2 separate regions of the Homo sapiens genome follow, and region 2 is linked to region 1. The links come from fine-mapping of genetic effects on gene expression. Tissue or cell type: lung. Region 1 holds a variant in brackets; the other region holds the start of a gene. All regions are shown on one strand. Distances are between the middles of the regions.

Region 1 (8,109 bases):
AAATATCTCCTCTTCTAGGATGCCTTTCATAAACTCTTCTCTCTGTCTTCTAGGAATTAAGGTATTCTCTTCTATGTTTGTTCATTGAATTTCTGTTGTGGCATTTATGGCTTTATATTTTTATTTTACTTTACCTGTGTTCTCTCCTACACACCTCCCACATGATCAGAAACCAGCACTGTGTCTGCTTGTTTAAAGAATAGTAAAATAAAAACATGGAGCTCTTAGCTCCCTCCGAAATTTCAGTTCCGTTTTGGATAATACTTCTGGAAAAAGAGATAGGAATATTTACTTTCTTATGGAAAATATTTTTTAATAAATTTATTTAATAAAAATATTCTGACAGTGTTGTAAATTTGCATTTGGTATATGAGCTTTTAGAACTGCTTATAAATATGTGAATTTTAAAGTAATGCATGATCATATTTAATTGTTGGACTTTTTATTTTCCTGTATAGGGCTGTCATCAGTGATCCAGAGCAAAATTTAGCCATTGAGCAAAAAGAAAGTGATCATATCCTTCCAGATTCAAAGATGACACCTCTTCGATTTAGAAAAAGAACACTACATGAAACAAAGTAAGAAGATTTTAATTACATAAAATGAGGATGCACTATGTTCTAAAAGTATTTTTAAAATGTACTTCTGTGTCTAGCTGGAGCTTTTGTGTTTGTTTCACTTTTTTCTATATAAAGAAAAGTGGAATTTTTTGAGTTCAGCTCCCAGTTCTGCTACTTCATGATATTAGGGGCAATACCTTATTTTACTCTCTTTGCCCTCCAGATTTTTTATTTGTAATTTAGGGGAAAAAAAGCCACAACCTTTGGAGATAATGGATGTGAAAATGTATCATATAGTTACCGAGAAATTTTACGTGTGCTATATATACTGGCTAAATCTCATTGGCATATTAAAACTTGGTGTTGACTATAAGATTTGTTTTGCATTTTACGTTGTAGCTTTTTCAACCTTAGAATTGGTATGATCTTTTACAATCCTCTGATGCTGTCCACTTAAATTCTTCAACAGTTTCACTGACATCTAACCTCGGCTTTAGTAGACATAAAAAAATCTACCAGTACCCACAGTAGCTTTTTTATATTTTCAGACTACTGTAATTCTTAGTACTTTCTTATCTTTTTTTAATCGTTTTGTCCCATTCTTATTTTCTGAAAGCCATTGCTTTTATCCATTTAAATATTTGGAAGCATTATGTGTTAGTTTCCTATTGCTGCTGTAACAATTACCATGAGCTTAGTATTCTAAAACACAGATTTATTGTTTAATTGTTCTGGAGTTCAGATGCCTAAAATCAAGGGATTGATAGGGCTACATTCCTTCTAGAGGTTTTAGTGGGGGTGAAGCTATTTTCTTGCCTTTTGCAGCTTCTAGAAGCTGCCTTCATTCCTTGGCTCATGGCCCCTTCCTCCATCTTCAAAGTCTTCAATAGCTGGTCTTATGCTGCATCACTCTGGCACTCTTTTTCTATAGATACATTTCTCTCTATGTTCCTCCAATAAGGACATGTGTGAGTGCGTTGAATCTACCCAGATAATCCCAATAATCTCTCCATTTTAATGTTCTTAATTTATCACATATGCCATGTCCCTTCTACCATATAATGTATTCCCATGTTCCAAGGATTAGGATGTAGACATGTTGGGCCAGAGGAGGTCGTCATTTATGTACCACACATCTAAACTGTCCTTTTTAAAAGTCAACTTTCATTGAAATAAAACGTACATTCACAGTGAATAAATTTTAGGTGCACAACATAGGAATTATCAAAAACAGAACAACACTCATGTACCAAATGCTCAGATCAAGAAACAGACAATTGCCAGTACCCCGAACCTCCCCTTATGCTGCCTCCCAGTTACTATTCATTTCCCCTGCTATACCAGGTTAACCTCTCTATCTTAATATCATAGATTAGAACTGCCTGGTTATGAAATTTATGTAAATGAAATTACAAGAAATCTAGACTCTGTGTCCAGCTTGTTTTTTCTCTCTAATGGCACTTATTTGTTAATTTAATTGTATATAAGATGTACAACATGATATTTTGATATACATAGTGAAATGTGTTTGTCTTCTTTTACCCAACATTAGGTTTGTGAGTTTTATCCATGGTGTTATTTGTAGTTGTCTTTTTTTATTCTCATTGTTGTATAGTATTTCATTATACCACATGCCACAACCTATCTATTCAGAGGTTGATAGATATTTGGCTCTTTGTGAATAGTGCTGCTATGAACTTCCTTGTTCATGCCTTTTGGTAAACATATGTACTCATTTCTGCTGAGTATATACTTAGAAGTAGAATTGTTGGACCACTTAGTATCCATATGTTCAGCTTTGAAAGATGCAGCCAAATAGCTTTCCCAACTGGTTGCTGAAATTTACACTCCCACCAGTAGCAGTATGAGTGTTCTTGTTGCACCATATCTTTGCCAGAGCTTGGTATTGTCTGCCTTTTTTTATTTGAGTTCTTCTTATGGATGTGTATTAGTGATTTTAATTTGCATTTCACTGGAGACTAATGTAGTTGAGTACTTTTCCATATGTATATAGGCCATTTTGATATCTTCATACAAAATTTCCATTCAAGCCTGTTGAGTTGTCTGTCTTCTTAATATTTATTTGTGGATCTTATTTACATGTTTTAGAAATGAATCCTTTTTCAACTATATTTGTCGCACATATCTTTTCCTACTCTGTAGTTACCTTTTCATTCTCTTGATTATATCTGTCTCAAAAACTAAAATTAGAAGTAGGAGTTTTAACATAGGCCAGTTTTCCTCTTTCCCTGTATTGTTAATGTCCTTTGTATATTCCTTAAAAATAATCTCTGCCTACCACTAAATCATTTTCCCTCTGACTTGTAATGCCACATATGTCATATGTCAAGTTGTTATATGCATGGTTATGACATGACATATTTATATGCATGCCAAATGCATGGTTGGTTTCTAGGCTTTTTCTTCAGTATCATCTGTTCCCTGTGTCAGTATTATCCTATCTTAATTAGTATTGCGTTGTATTAGAGTAAATACCTACAGCTTGTTTAAAGCTAATCTAGGTCCATGAAAAATCCTGTGGGGGTATCGATTAGAATTATTGAATTTTTAGCTTTCACTCCTCTTATGCCCCATTTATTTTTCCCAGAGGAGGAGAGAGTTCTGCT[A/T]CATAAATTTAGAGGCAGGAATTGGCGTGAGTAGTACAGCCCTTCCTCTCCCCTTTGTTTGGGAGGCAGCAGCACATTCTGCCCTGTGCATTGTTTTAGAGGGTCCCTCCCCAGTGGAAATGAGTGGCTTAGTCTGTTTAATTATAGTGGTAAGGAGTAGCTTGTGGTTGCTGCATACCTAAGCCATGGTTTCTAGTAGCTTTATCAATACTAAATTCATACTTTAATCTTCAGTCTTTCTGATTCTTCTTTATGTATTGGTAGAGAACTTGGGTTCCTAAAAGCAATTGGGCATCTAAAACCCAACATGGCACTTTGCATTTTATAATGTAAATACATATTTACTTTTATCTTTTCAAGAAGACTATAGGGCCCTTGAAGCTATTACTTCCATTTGTCACTGTTAAAGTGAGTTCTGTTTACTATTGAAAAGCAATATAATGTAATGGTTAAGAGCAAAGTTTTTTCTAGCTCTGCCATTTACTAATCATATGGCCCTGGACAATTTACTCATCTGTCTATGTTTCTGTAAAATTTATTTGAAAAATGGGAATAATAACACCTCAGAGTTATTATAAGTATTAAATAAACCAATACACATTAAAGTGATTTTAACAATGACTAGTATCTGGGAAATTCTCAATAAGTGGTAGCTGTACTGTTGCTGTTATTGTCTCAGCATTTAGAATTGTTTCAGGCACATAGTGGGCATTCAATAAACACATTAATCCCAGCAGATTAAACTGAATTGAGATGGTTACACTCCCATGGCTCTACTCTGTGCTTACAAACTCTCATTTGGTTTGCAGGCTCACGTTTCCTGTTCCCTGCTTCCTTTTTGTAGATACCTAGATTTTATAGAGGTGTAGCTTTCAAGATCCCAGTGACCCACACACTTACTTACTAATTACATTACTGCCATTTCATTATACCTGCAGTTTTATGGAAGGAATATTATTAAATTATTTGTGAAGCAAAGGAGAAATATATCATTTAGTCTTCAGATCTCTTAATATAAAGGAGATTATTGGCAGTAGGGTGTTTTGGTTTTGCTTTATATTGTTAAATAGAATTTTAGGGCTGGCAGCCTTTATGAGATCATTCAGTACTGTCTGAAGGCCATAAAGATTAAATAACCTATTGATCTGTGACAAAGTTCGAACTTCATTCAGCACTCTTCCCCACTCTTTAGTTATTCTGGTAAGGAATGTTTTCAGCTACACATCACTGAAAACCGATTGATAGTGGCTTAAACAAGTCAGGATTTATTTTTCTTATATAGTTAGCTGCTTGGAGGTAGGCATTTACTGGTTTTGGTTCAGTAGCTTAGTGATGTTACCGCTCTAGGCTGGCTTTCCTATATCTTTTTGGTCGTTCTGATGTGGTGGATTGATCTCATGGTGGCTATAGTGGCTCCTAGCATCACATCCCTGCCACGTTCACAGGCAGGAACTCTTCTCATGCCACTCTCTTACCAGGACAAAAGAAAGTCTTTCCTGGAAGCTTACTGGCAGAACTAGGTCCCTTACTCATCCTTAATTGCAAGATGCTAAGAGCAAATTCTTTTTTTTTTTTTTTTTTTTTTTTTTTTTGAGACGGAGTCTGGCTCTGTCGCCCAGGCTGGAGTGCAGTGGCGCGATCTCGGCTCACTGCAAGCTCCGCCTCCCGGGTTCACGCCATTCTCCTGCCTCAGCCTCCTGAGTAGCTGAGACTACGGGCGCCCACCACCACGCCCGGCTAATTTTTTGTAATTTTTAGTAGAGATGGGGTTTCACCGTGTTAGCCAGATGGTCTCGATCTCCTGACCTCGTGATCCACCCGCCTCGGCCTCCCTAAGTGCTGGGATTACAGGTGTGAGCCACCGCGCCCGGCCGCTAAGAGCAAATTCTATGGTGTGAGGGAAGCAAAGAAGAAGAGGGTTAGAAATGGCATTCAGATAGCCCTGCAACAGTGCCAGTCGCAAATGTTGTATCTCTATTCAGTATTTACTTTTATAGCACTTTGATGCTATAGATTCTAATATAAAAGTCATTCACGTATTATATACTATATCTCAGAGTTATTTCTTTTGTGTCTGCTACAATTAGCAATCTGAAAAAAAGAGTTTTTTTTTACCTTTATTGTTATCCAATCTGTGTGGTTTCAAAATATTAACATAACTTTTTTTGTACATTTACAATTTCCATCAAGTTATAGGTATCTTGAAAAATTACTGACAAAATGTATTTCTTAACAGGATAAGAACTCATTCTACATTAACTGAAAATGTGCTTTCTCATAAATTACAGTTTGATGGTAGGATCGTATCACGGTAATTGTGATTTTATTAAAATTTTTAATCCTATGATTATAAAAACGTATTCTCTTTTTGAATAGAAATGACAGTAATGAGATTATATAGGTTTGTGTCATTTAAATAAAAATACGTGAATTTAGAACAAACATTTTAAAATAATAGCTATTAATCTGTTATAAAAATATAGGAAATATGAATCTGTAGGAAAAACATTCTAATTAAAAGTTATCTTTAAAGCGAATTTAAATATTTTTTAAAAAGTAACAGCAGTGAATTTTTTAGAGTTATATTACTACTAGAGTTTTGTAAACTGAAAACTAATGTTTTATAAGCTGCTTTATTTAATTTTATCTTAATGATTTAACAGATTATTGATAGGTGCAGTAAGTGACAAGGAAAATAATTTTTAAATCTATTATTTCAGTCTTATAGATTTCCAGTAATAAATAATTCTACTTGATGTTCTTTGTATATTACTGATAAAATGTGTATTTTAAATTATTTTATTTGTTTAGTGAATTTAAAGCTTTCTATGACAATAAAAGATAATAAATTTGTATCTATGGGTGCCTTCTTGCAACCTCAACACTTTTAAAGATAATTCACATTGTCTTAAAAGTCTATGTTGAATTAATAATGTACATCGTAAATATATCCACTTTTAATGTCAGTGTAAGATTATTTTTTTCTGCATTCAAATCTAACTTTTAGTGGACATTTCAGCAAGCTATGTTTTTGTGTTTTCCCTACAGTTTCCCATAACCTTCACTCATTGCCACATACATAAGAGAGTTAGCTATCCTTCTTGAGATGAACATGTTTTTTAGTTAATTCATCTAAAAATTATTCTATTTGAAGATGTTTGATTTCATTCTATTTTTCCAGTAATGGACGTGATGCTTGCAGAGAGCTCATTGGGTTCTTTTTCACTCATGACCAATCCCTTACAATTTATGAATATCGACAATTTGGGAAAAATAGGTATGCCATTAAACATTGTTAGAACTCTGGAGATGTTCACTTCCGAGAGAAGCTAAATAACTTTCCATTTTTTTTTCATTTACTTTCTAGAACAAATGTGCTTCCTTTTATTCAAAAAAGCATTTATAGTCATCAGTGTGGACGAAGAAAAGGAAAACAATACCGACTTGGTGATTTTTATGTTGTAAGTGGTGTGTGTGTGTGCACACATTTAATACCAGATGGTGGATTTTGTGGAGTCCCATGGAGGTGGAGGAGTAGGGCTTCTAGTCTTCAATTTATTTCCTCTCCTGCATCCTGAACAGGGTCATTTGTGTGGGCTAATGGTTGATGTTTTGCCAGGAGCTTCTGCTTCCCAGCCCCAAATCTCAAGTCTGAATCCAAGCATATCATTTATTTTCTGTAACACCCCCCTTCCCATTCCACAACATGGGTTGTCTCCAGATGAAGTTGTATCTTCGTACTTTGAAAAGTTCTTCAAAGCTGTGTCATTGGGTGAGTGGCTATCTCAATATTACCCAAAGTAGGTTTATCCTCCGAGGATGGACAGTTTCCTCCATGTGAAGGGGTATGGGCCTCTGGAGCTGTCATTTTTTTGATGGATAGCCTATCTTCCTTGTGATTTTCCCACTTTGGGAAATTCCCGGCATGTGGTGTGTCACAAGGATTCCCTAGAATGGGTGGAGCATAGATAATGTTACAGTTTGTGTAGTGCTCTTAAATTTTAAATCATATTTACACTTTATATCGTGAGTAAAATACAGCACTATCCACAGTGATCATTCAGGTAATATATGTTTCTATCCTAAGATCTGTAGATGGAACAGTAAGTTAGACTCATTCCCTGCTTTTTTGGAGCTGGCAGTCTAATAGGAGACACAGATAGATAAGAGGGCCAGATAGGAGGGGCAATGTGGGCCAGATAGGAGGGGTGATGGCCTAGTTTTGTGGAATCAAAGGAGGCTTCCTAGAGAAAATGCCATCTACCCTTGACTAGGAGTTAGCAAGGCTGGGATAAGGGAATAGGTTAGGGTGGGGAAAAGCTTCCAGGTGGAGAAGACAGCTTGTTCTAAGAACAAAAAGGAAGAGAGCACATGACTTATTTGGAGAACTGGAAGTAGTTCAGTCTGGTTGGAGGAGAGTTCAAGGTGGAGGTTGGCAAGAGATGAGTCAGAGCTTATTAAAAGCAGCCCATGTTAAAGAGTTATCTAACATGTATTGGGGAGTCACTGGAAGAGAAGATGTGGATGGAATGGGGGAAGGTGGCATGATCAGATTTGTGATTTTGAAAGATCTGTCTGGTTACAATGTGGGGAAGGAATTGAAGACTAGATACACAAGGGCAGGATAGGATTGAATTATATTAATCTAGGAGAGAGATTATGGCAACCTGAATAAGCAAATGACTCTGGCTATGAAGCTAATTAGAAGAATAAAAATTCTTTGATAGGTAGAGTCAGTACAATTTGGTGGCCAGTTAAGGGAGAAGTATGGGTTGAGGAAAAATTTTACATCTTATACTTAAATACACTATACACTATACATATGACACTCAAGCCTGCCTCTTGAGATCTAGAGAAAATCAGCTCGACTCCCATTTCACAACCTGCAGAAGAATGTTTAATGCATATTCCAAGTTTAAAGT
Region 2 (8,109 bases), 89 kb before region 1:
AACGATTTTTAACAAGGGTGGAAAGACCATTTTATGGGGAAAATAACAATCTTTCCAGCAAATGAAGTTAGGAAAACTGGATATCCACATGCAAAAGAATAAGCTGGACCCTTACCTTACACAATATACAAAACTTAACTCAAAGACCTAAAACTATAAAACCTTTAAAAAGCACAGGGGAAAAGCTTCATGATATTGAATTTGGCAATGACTTCTTGGATACGACAAAAAATACATACAATAACAACAAAAAATGATAAATTATACTTCATTGACGTTAAAAACTTTTGTTTATCAAAGGATATTATCAATAGAGTGCAAAGGCAACTTACAAAACGGGAGAAAATACTTTCAAATCATATATCTGAAAAAGATTAATATCCAGAATCTATAAAAATTCCTATAATTCAACAACAAAAAATCTAACAAGTTGGCCAAAAAATGTGCAAACGACTTGAATAGATAGTTCTTCAAAGAAGAGAAAATCTTGGTCAAGAAGCAAATAAAAAGATGCTCAATATCAGTAATCATTAGGGAAATGCAGATAAAAAATACAGTGAGGTATCACTTCATAACTGCTAGATGGTTATCATTAAGAAAAAAAGAGGAATAAGGAAAATAAAACAGAAAATAACAAGTGTTATCAAGGATGTGGAGAAATTGAACCCTTGAACATTCTTGGTGGGAATGTAAAATGGTGCAGCCACTATGGAAAACAGAATGGGGGTTCTTTGAAAAATTAAACAGAATTATCATATGATACAGCAATTCCAGTTCTGGGTATATACCCAAAAACAGCAAAATCAGGAACTGGAGCAGATAAATGTACACCCATGTCTATAGCAGTATTATTCACAACAGCCAAATAATGGAAGCAATCTAAATATCCACTGACCAATGAATGGATAAACAAAATGTGGTATATGCATACAGTAGAATATTATTCAGCTGTAAAAAGACAGGTAATTCTGACACATGCTACAACATGGGTGAACTTTATAGACATTATACCAAATGAAATAAGCTAGTAACAAAGACAAATATTATATGATTCCACTTATATTTGGTACCTTAAGAAGTCAAATTAATAGGAATAGAAAGTAGAATGGTGATAGAGGCCTGGGAGGAGGGGAGATGGAGAGTAAAGTAATTATTTGATGGGTATGGAGTCTCAGTTCAGGAAGACGAAAAAATTTTGGAGATAGGTGGTGGTAATGGGTGCACAACAATGCAAATGTACTTAATGCCACTGAACTATACACTTAAAAATGGTTAAAATGGTAAATGTTATGTCCTGTATATTGTAATACAATTTTTTAAAAACAACAATTTTTTTGGTATTTAAAAGCAAGGTAGAACAAAAGTACTACACGGCAATAGCATGAATAAGGATGGAAAGTATTCAGAATTTGTGTTCTAAGATCTTATTAATATTTGGGTGGAGTTTACAGGTATTAACTTTTGGAATTTATAAAAAGTACATACATTAAAATACTAAAAATAACCAATAAAAGAGTTTAAATAAGCTGAGTGATGTCCAAATCTGCTAAAGAAACATTTTAAATAGGCCATACTATTATGATAGACTATACTATTTACAGTTAATATTTATGTCCTAATAAAATACATGGGAAAAATATACATTAACTTCAAGAAAGAAGAAAAAGGTAAAAATTTAGGGTGGGACTTTAACCTATATATCAAATACTATTCCTTTAAAAATGTCTATATTTAAAAATATCGATTGTGGGTATACAGGTATATTATTTTATATACCTTATGTTTGAAATACTATATAATTTTTAGAGATGAGATAGAAAACCTATGAAAAGTTGTATTAGAAAGTATTATGTGTTTATTAATTTTCAGGAGTAAGGATAATCTTCAAATTGGGAAGAAACAGAATTAGTCACAAAAAATGGGAAATTAGTTGAAACTCCCAAATATCCCCAAACTCTATAATTGAATTCAAAAGAAAAAGAATTGGCTTAGAAAAAAGTATCTTCAGCAGATAGAACCAAATGCTAGCATAGTTCTATAAGACAGCATATAATCTGACATGGAAATGCTGACAATATAAAAGGTAAAGGAAATGACGAAGAAAGAACTCAAGTATGTCCTATCAAAATAGTATTTTAAAATCAACATTAAAACAAATGACCATTTTTGTAATTTATTCATTTAGCAAGTAATTGAACATGTCCAAATCAGTGAGGATGTGGTGAAAACAGAACAGCTGGTATTTGCTAAATTTGGCACTACCCTTTAGCATAGCAATTGCTATGTGTTAAATTAATAAAAAATATCATACCCTTAATTTATTTATCCCATTTCTGAAATTTGTGCTAAGAACTAATGCTGAAGGAAGAAAAGACATGTCTAGGAAAGTAGTCCTTGCAATATAATTTATAAGTTTGAAGCTTCTAATTCCCTAAGAGGACAGTTATTTATTTGCCGGATTTTCAGTCATTTTAATGACAGTCAGGAAAACTCAATAGCAACCAGGGAATAGTTGAGTTGTTAAATGACTATAGGGTGTAAAAGAGGGGGAAAGCAAGAACCGCATTGTAAGGTAAGGCAAAATCAGGGTCAAGACTAGGGTGAGGAAACTGAGACACTTCCTTAGGAGCCAAATTTGGAATGGGCACAAAAAAAAAAAATCAAGATAACAAACATTTTTAAAAGGCAAAGCTAATGTGACATCGATGATGGAAAAAGCTAAAAATAAAAATTTCAAATACAAACAGAATCTCATCTTGATTTGCACCACCCTGAGAGTGTCGCACTTGTTTTTCCCTAATCCAGACCCAAGGAACCTGTCTTTGTTAAATTTTTTAACATTTTCTTTACCCTTGATATTGATATTTTTGCACTGATTTTTAATTTTTAAAAACCCGTTGCATTAAAATATCATTTTCTTGAATTGGCGCCCCCTTAAAATCTGCACTTCAGGCCAGTGCCTCCATCACCTTAGTCCTGGCCCTGTGTAATATCATGGTAATAAGCATGTGTTAGAGTGTCCGCAGTTTTTCTCTGTGTAAACTTCACGTGTACTTTAAAAACCAAGCTAAAAGTGCGGTTCTCCGCGATCCTTCAGCCTCAGAGCAGTGGCCCCAACTACCCGAGATCCAGGGAGGCGTTGTGGCAACGGTAGTGGAAGGGTCGGCAAACCGCCTTCCGGCCTCACCATGAAGCGCAAGTTAGACCCTCGGGGAATGACGTCGCCCCGCAGCTCATTGTGGAGGTTCACGTACTCGTTGATAAAGTCTACGTCCTCCTCGTCTGGCAAAAATCTGGCGTTCAAACTAGAACCCAGTAGCAGTAGCCACAGCTCACAGAGCCGCAGCTTCAAAACGCCCCCTACTGCCAGGGGTAGGGACTGGGCCCTCCACTCCCGGGCGAAGGGCCTTGCGGCCTCCATGGTCCACCGGCCGCTGACAGGCCAGTGCGCACGCGCTGGCCGTCCCAGTGACCTGCCAATCTACGGAGGACGCAAGCAAGCCTTGTCCCGCCTCCCGGAAGGAGAAAGGGAGGAGGGAGGAGGGAAAAACAAAGGAGGGAGGAGGGGGTAAGGAGGAGGGAGGAGAGAAGAGGGAGGGGAGAGTGGGTAGGGGAGGGGGAGAGGAGGGGAAAGCTAGACCTGCAGAGTGAAGAAAGCTGGTAATAGATGTCTGACAAACTAAAGAAAGACTTGTGTTACGTGAGTAAGCCCTTTTCACTAAACTAATGTAGTGAAATGTTATCCCGAATTGATTTCTGACACTGAATGATATGTCGTTATTAATGAGTCATCAGTTTGTATGGTAAATGCCAATTGCTGAGTAACAGGTCTGAGGAACCTTCTAATTGTGCCAGGTGAAATGATTTTTCTGCGATACAGATACAAATTCAATTAAATTTTTTTTCCCCATTACCTGTTGAGTTGGAAATTTGGTGCAGGGCCTGCCTTTTATTTTCCTCAGGGACAGAATGGAATACAGAAATATTGCTAGTTCTTAAGGCCAAAGAAGTTCTTAAGGCCAACTTAATTGATGAGATTTTTTTCAGTTTTTAAATGAACCTTTGTGGGAAACCACAAAATAAATGGGAGTGAAGGGAGAGTAGGGATCACCAAACTCTTCAAAGGTTAAAACATTTCTACTTCTTCTCTCATCAGCACAATTCAGACAGCCCGGAATATCAAGATTCATCTTTTTCACTAATTGTGGCATTCACAGTAAGAACGAACTCTTTTGTTTTCTTTTTTTGTTCCAGACAAAATTGGCTAATATCTAGCTGATTTTGGTCTGATCTGTTTACCTCCAAACATTTTCCTCAAAAACAAAACAAAACAAAACCAACTTGCTTTGAAGACTTTAAATTCTAAGCATGGAAAAAAAGCAAGTATTAGTTTTGGAATACACGTTTGCATATTACATATTGTGCTTAATAGCATTAAGCAGATATGGAAAATTGACATTGGGAGAGAATTTTACTACAAAACATTGTAACAGGTTAGCCAAACATTTATAAAAAGAAAAGTGCTTTTAAAAATTGTCTGTGATGCACACAATTGAAAAACAATAGACCTATGTAAGATGGTTTCATTTATGCCCTTGAATACTTACTACTATGACTGCATAGTAGTAAGTTTTAAGTGATTGAGAAAGATCAGTAGACAAGACACAGATCCAGCTTTCAAGCAGCTTACAATTTAGTGAATTAGCAATCAGGCAGTATTTAAAACGTGATAAATACAAAGCCAAAATTCTATTGCTTGGTACTCTTGTGGAGGAGCAGGGAAGCCTTTCTGGAAATTGTATACAGAAAGTGAAACAGACAAGTCTAAGATAGCATTCTAAACAAAGGGAAAAGCATGTAATGTGCCTAAGGAGAGGAAGATCCTAAACGCTAGAAGTATTTTAGTATGGCTAGAACCTATTTAAGGGTGAAGGTGGCAAGTGCTGAAAGATGCAATTCTTTTATTATGGTGGTACTGTTGTTAGACTGCAAAAAATGCTAAAGAAAAAGTATAAATAGAATAATGCAATCTTAGATTTGGAAGAAATTTTAGCCACTATTGCTAGCCTCCTGTGTTAGGTATACTCTCCGGAACATCACTGACAGGTGATCATCACATCCTTTTCTTAAATAATTAGACCAACAGGGAAGCCCATTCCACTGCTAGACATCTCATTCAATAAATATTTCCTTGGTACTTCCTGTGTGTCACAGCCCAGCTAAAGGCTCAAATGCTGAACAAGCTAGACATGGAGTCTATCCACAGGGAGCTTTTAATTAAAGGTGACACAGATGAATCATCAAACAGTTACAATACAGAGTGGTGAATACTATTTTTAATCTATTTCACAAATATTTAATGTGTCAGGCACTATTTAAAATGCTTGGACAATATCAACTCACTCAAGTCACACAAATCTTAAGAAATAGTTATTATCCCTTTAACAGATGGAAAAACAACTGAGAAAAAGAGAAATCAAATTGCCTGAGGCCACCCAGCCAGGGAGTGGTAGAGCTACTTCTGTGTTTTTTTTGTTTTGTTTTGTTTTTTTTACCAATTCCTTTTCTAAAAATAGACTCTTTTTTAATAGCAGTTTTAGGTTCACAACAAAACTGAGAGGAAGGTACAGAGATTTCTCATGTAACTCCTGTCCCCACACATACATAAACTCCCTCATTATCAACATCCCACAACAGAGTAGTACATTTACAACTGATGAACCTACATTTATCCATTATTCCCACCCAGAGTTCATAGTGTATATTAGGGCTCATTCTTGGTGTTGCACATTTCATGGGTTGGTATAAATGTATAATGACATGTTTCCAGCATTTAGTACCATATAGAGTCGTTTTGCTGCCTAAAAATCCCTGGTGCTCAGACTATTCATCTCTCCCTGCCTCCTAACCCCGGCAACTACTAATTTTTTTTTACTGTCTTCATAGTTTTGCTTTTTCCAGAATGTCATATAGTTGGAGTCATACAGTATGTAGTCTTTTCAGATTGGCTTCTTTCACTTAGTAATATGTGTGTAAATTTCTTCCATGTCTTTTCGTGGCTTGATACCTAATTTCTTTTTAGCACTGAATAATTTTTCATTTTCTGGATGTACCAACATTTCTTTATTCCAGTAGCTACTGAAGGACATGTTGGCTGATTCTAGGTATTGGTGTATTATTCTATTCTCATGCCACTAATAAAGACAGACCCAAGACTGGGTAATTTATAAAGGAAAGAGGTTTGATGAACTCACAGTTCCACATGGCTGGGAGCCCTCGCAATCATAGTGGAAGACGAAGGAGGAGCAAAGGGACATCTTACATGGTGGCAGCCAAGAGACCATGTGCAGGGGAACTACTCTTTATAAAACCATCAGATCTCATGAGACATAATCATTACCATGAGAACAGCACGGGAAAAACCTGCCCCCATGATTCAGTTACCTCTCACCTAGTCTCTCCCATGACACGTGGGGATTATTACAATTCAGGGTAAGATTTGGGTGGGGACACAGAGCCAAACCATATCAATTTGCAAATGTGAATACAGTTGTTATAAACATCTTTGTGCAGGTTTCTGTGTAGACATAAGTTTTCAACTCCTTTGGATAAATACCATGAGCATGATTGCTGGATCATAACTATATGTTATAGTAAATGCTATTGTTTGGATATTTGTCCCTTTCAAAATTCATGTTGAAACTTAATCCCCAATGTAACAGTATTGAAAGGTGGAGCCTTTAAGAAGTGATTGGGTCTGTCCTCATGAATGTATTGATCCATTCGTAGATTAATGGGTTAATGGATTAGTTTAGCCCCTTTACCATGTGATACTCTGTGCTGCCTTGGGATTCTGCAGAGTCCCCAGTAGCAAGAAGGGCCACACCAGATATGGCCCCTTGACTTTGAAATTCTCAGCCTCCATAATTCTAAGAAGTCAATTCCTTTTCTTTATAACTTACTCAGTTTCAGGTATTTTCTTATGAGCAACATTAAACAGACTATGGCAGTAAGCATAATGTTCAGTTTTTTAAGAAACTGCTAAACTATGTTCCAAAGTGGCTGTGCCATTTTGCATTCCCACCAGCAGTGAATGAGAGCTCATGTTCCTCCACATCCTTGTCAGCATTTGGTGTTGCCAGTGTTCTGGATTTTGGCCATTCTAAAAGGTGTGTAGTGGTATTTCATTGGTATTTTAATGTGCGTTTTCCTGGTGACATATGATGCACCTTTTCATATGCTTATTTGAGTACTGTATGTCTTCTTTGGTGAGGTGTCCATTAAGGTTTTTGACCCATTTTTAAATTAAACTGTTTGTTTTTCGATTGTTGAGTTTAAAGAGTCTTTGCATATTGTGCGTAATAGTTTTTATTGCATATATCTTCTGTAAGTATTTTTCTCCCAGGCCATGGCTTGTTTTTTCATTCTCTTGAGAATGTCTTTTGCTGAGTAGAAATTTTTAGTTTTAATGGCACCCAGCTTATCGATTTGTTCTTTCATAAATCATACCTTTTGTGTTGTATCTAAAAGGTTATTGCCAAATTAAAGATCATCTAGATTTTCTCTTATATAACCTTCTGGGAGTTTATACTTTTGTATTTACATTTAGGTCTGTGATCCATTTTGATTAATTTTTGTGAAGGGTATAAAGTTTGTGCTTAGACTGGTTTTTTTTTCTTGTATATGGACGTTCAGTTGTTCCAGAACCATTTGTTGAAAAGACTACATTTCTCCATTATATTGCCTTTGCTCCTTTGTCAAAGATCAGTTGACTTTATTTATGCTGTTCTATTTCTCAGCTCTCTATTCTGTTCCATGGATTTATTTCTACTTTCACCAATACTATACCTTTTAAATTATTGTATTTTTGCTATTGTTTGAATATGTCCCCCTAAATTCATATGCTGGAAAATTAATCCCCAATACAACAGCATTGAGGGGTGGGATCTTTAAGAGGTGATTGGGTCATGAGAGCCCTGTCCTCATGAATTGTATTAATGCCATTATCACAGGATTGGTAAAATATTGAGGGAGTGAGTTCCTGATAAAAGAGTGAGTTCAGCTCCCTTCTTTTGCACATGTGCATGCACTCTCTTCCTCTGTGAACTC

What was found. PIP is the estimated chance that this variant, and not a neighbour inherited with it, causes the effect.
Region 2: it holds the start of GLIPR1L2, and the variant in region 1 is fine-mapped to the expression of GLIPR1L2 in lung (TOPMed, PIP above 0.99). The same link has a PIP of 0.9 or more in atrial appendage.

Annotation. Positions count from the first base shown.
Region 1 is chr12:75,297,226-75,305,334 of GRCh38, reverse strand. CAPS2 (calcyphosine 2) reads left to right here. Exons shown (of 17, transcript NM_001355024.4): 8 at 459-578; 9 at 5,424-5,498; 10 at 6,369-6,464; 11 at 6,555-6,648. CAPS2-AS1 (CAPS2 antisense RNA 1) reads right to left here. Exons shown (of 4, transcript XR_001749213.2): 4 at 7,050-7,135. Among named protein-coding and RNA genes, the nearest start is that of CAPS2, 29 kb to the left of the region's middle. The variant A/T (reference allele first, on the strand shown) is at 3,188.
Region 2 is chr12:75,386,429-75,394,537 of GRCh38, reverse strand. GLIPR1L2 (GLIPR1 like 2) reads right to left here and starts at 3,449. Exons shown (of 6, transcript NM_001270396.2): 1 at 3,188-3,449. The coding sequence starts at 3,421. It also overlaps a transcript of CAPS2 not described here. RefSeq lists an enhancer at 3,388-3,517 and a silencer at 3,475-3,647.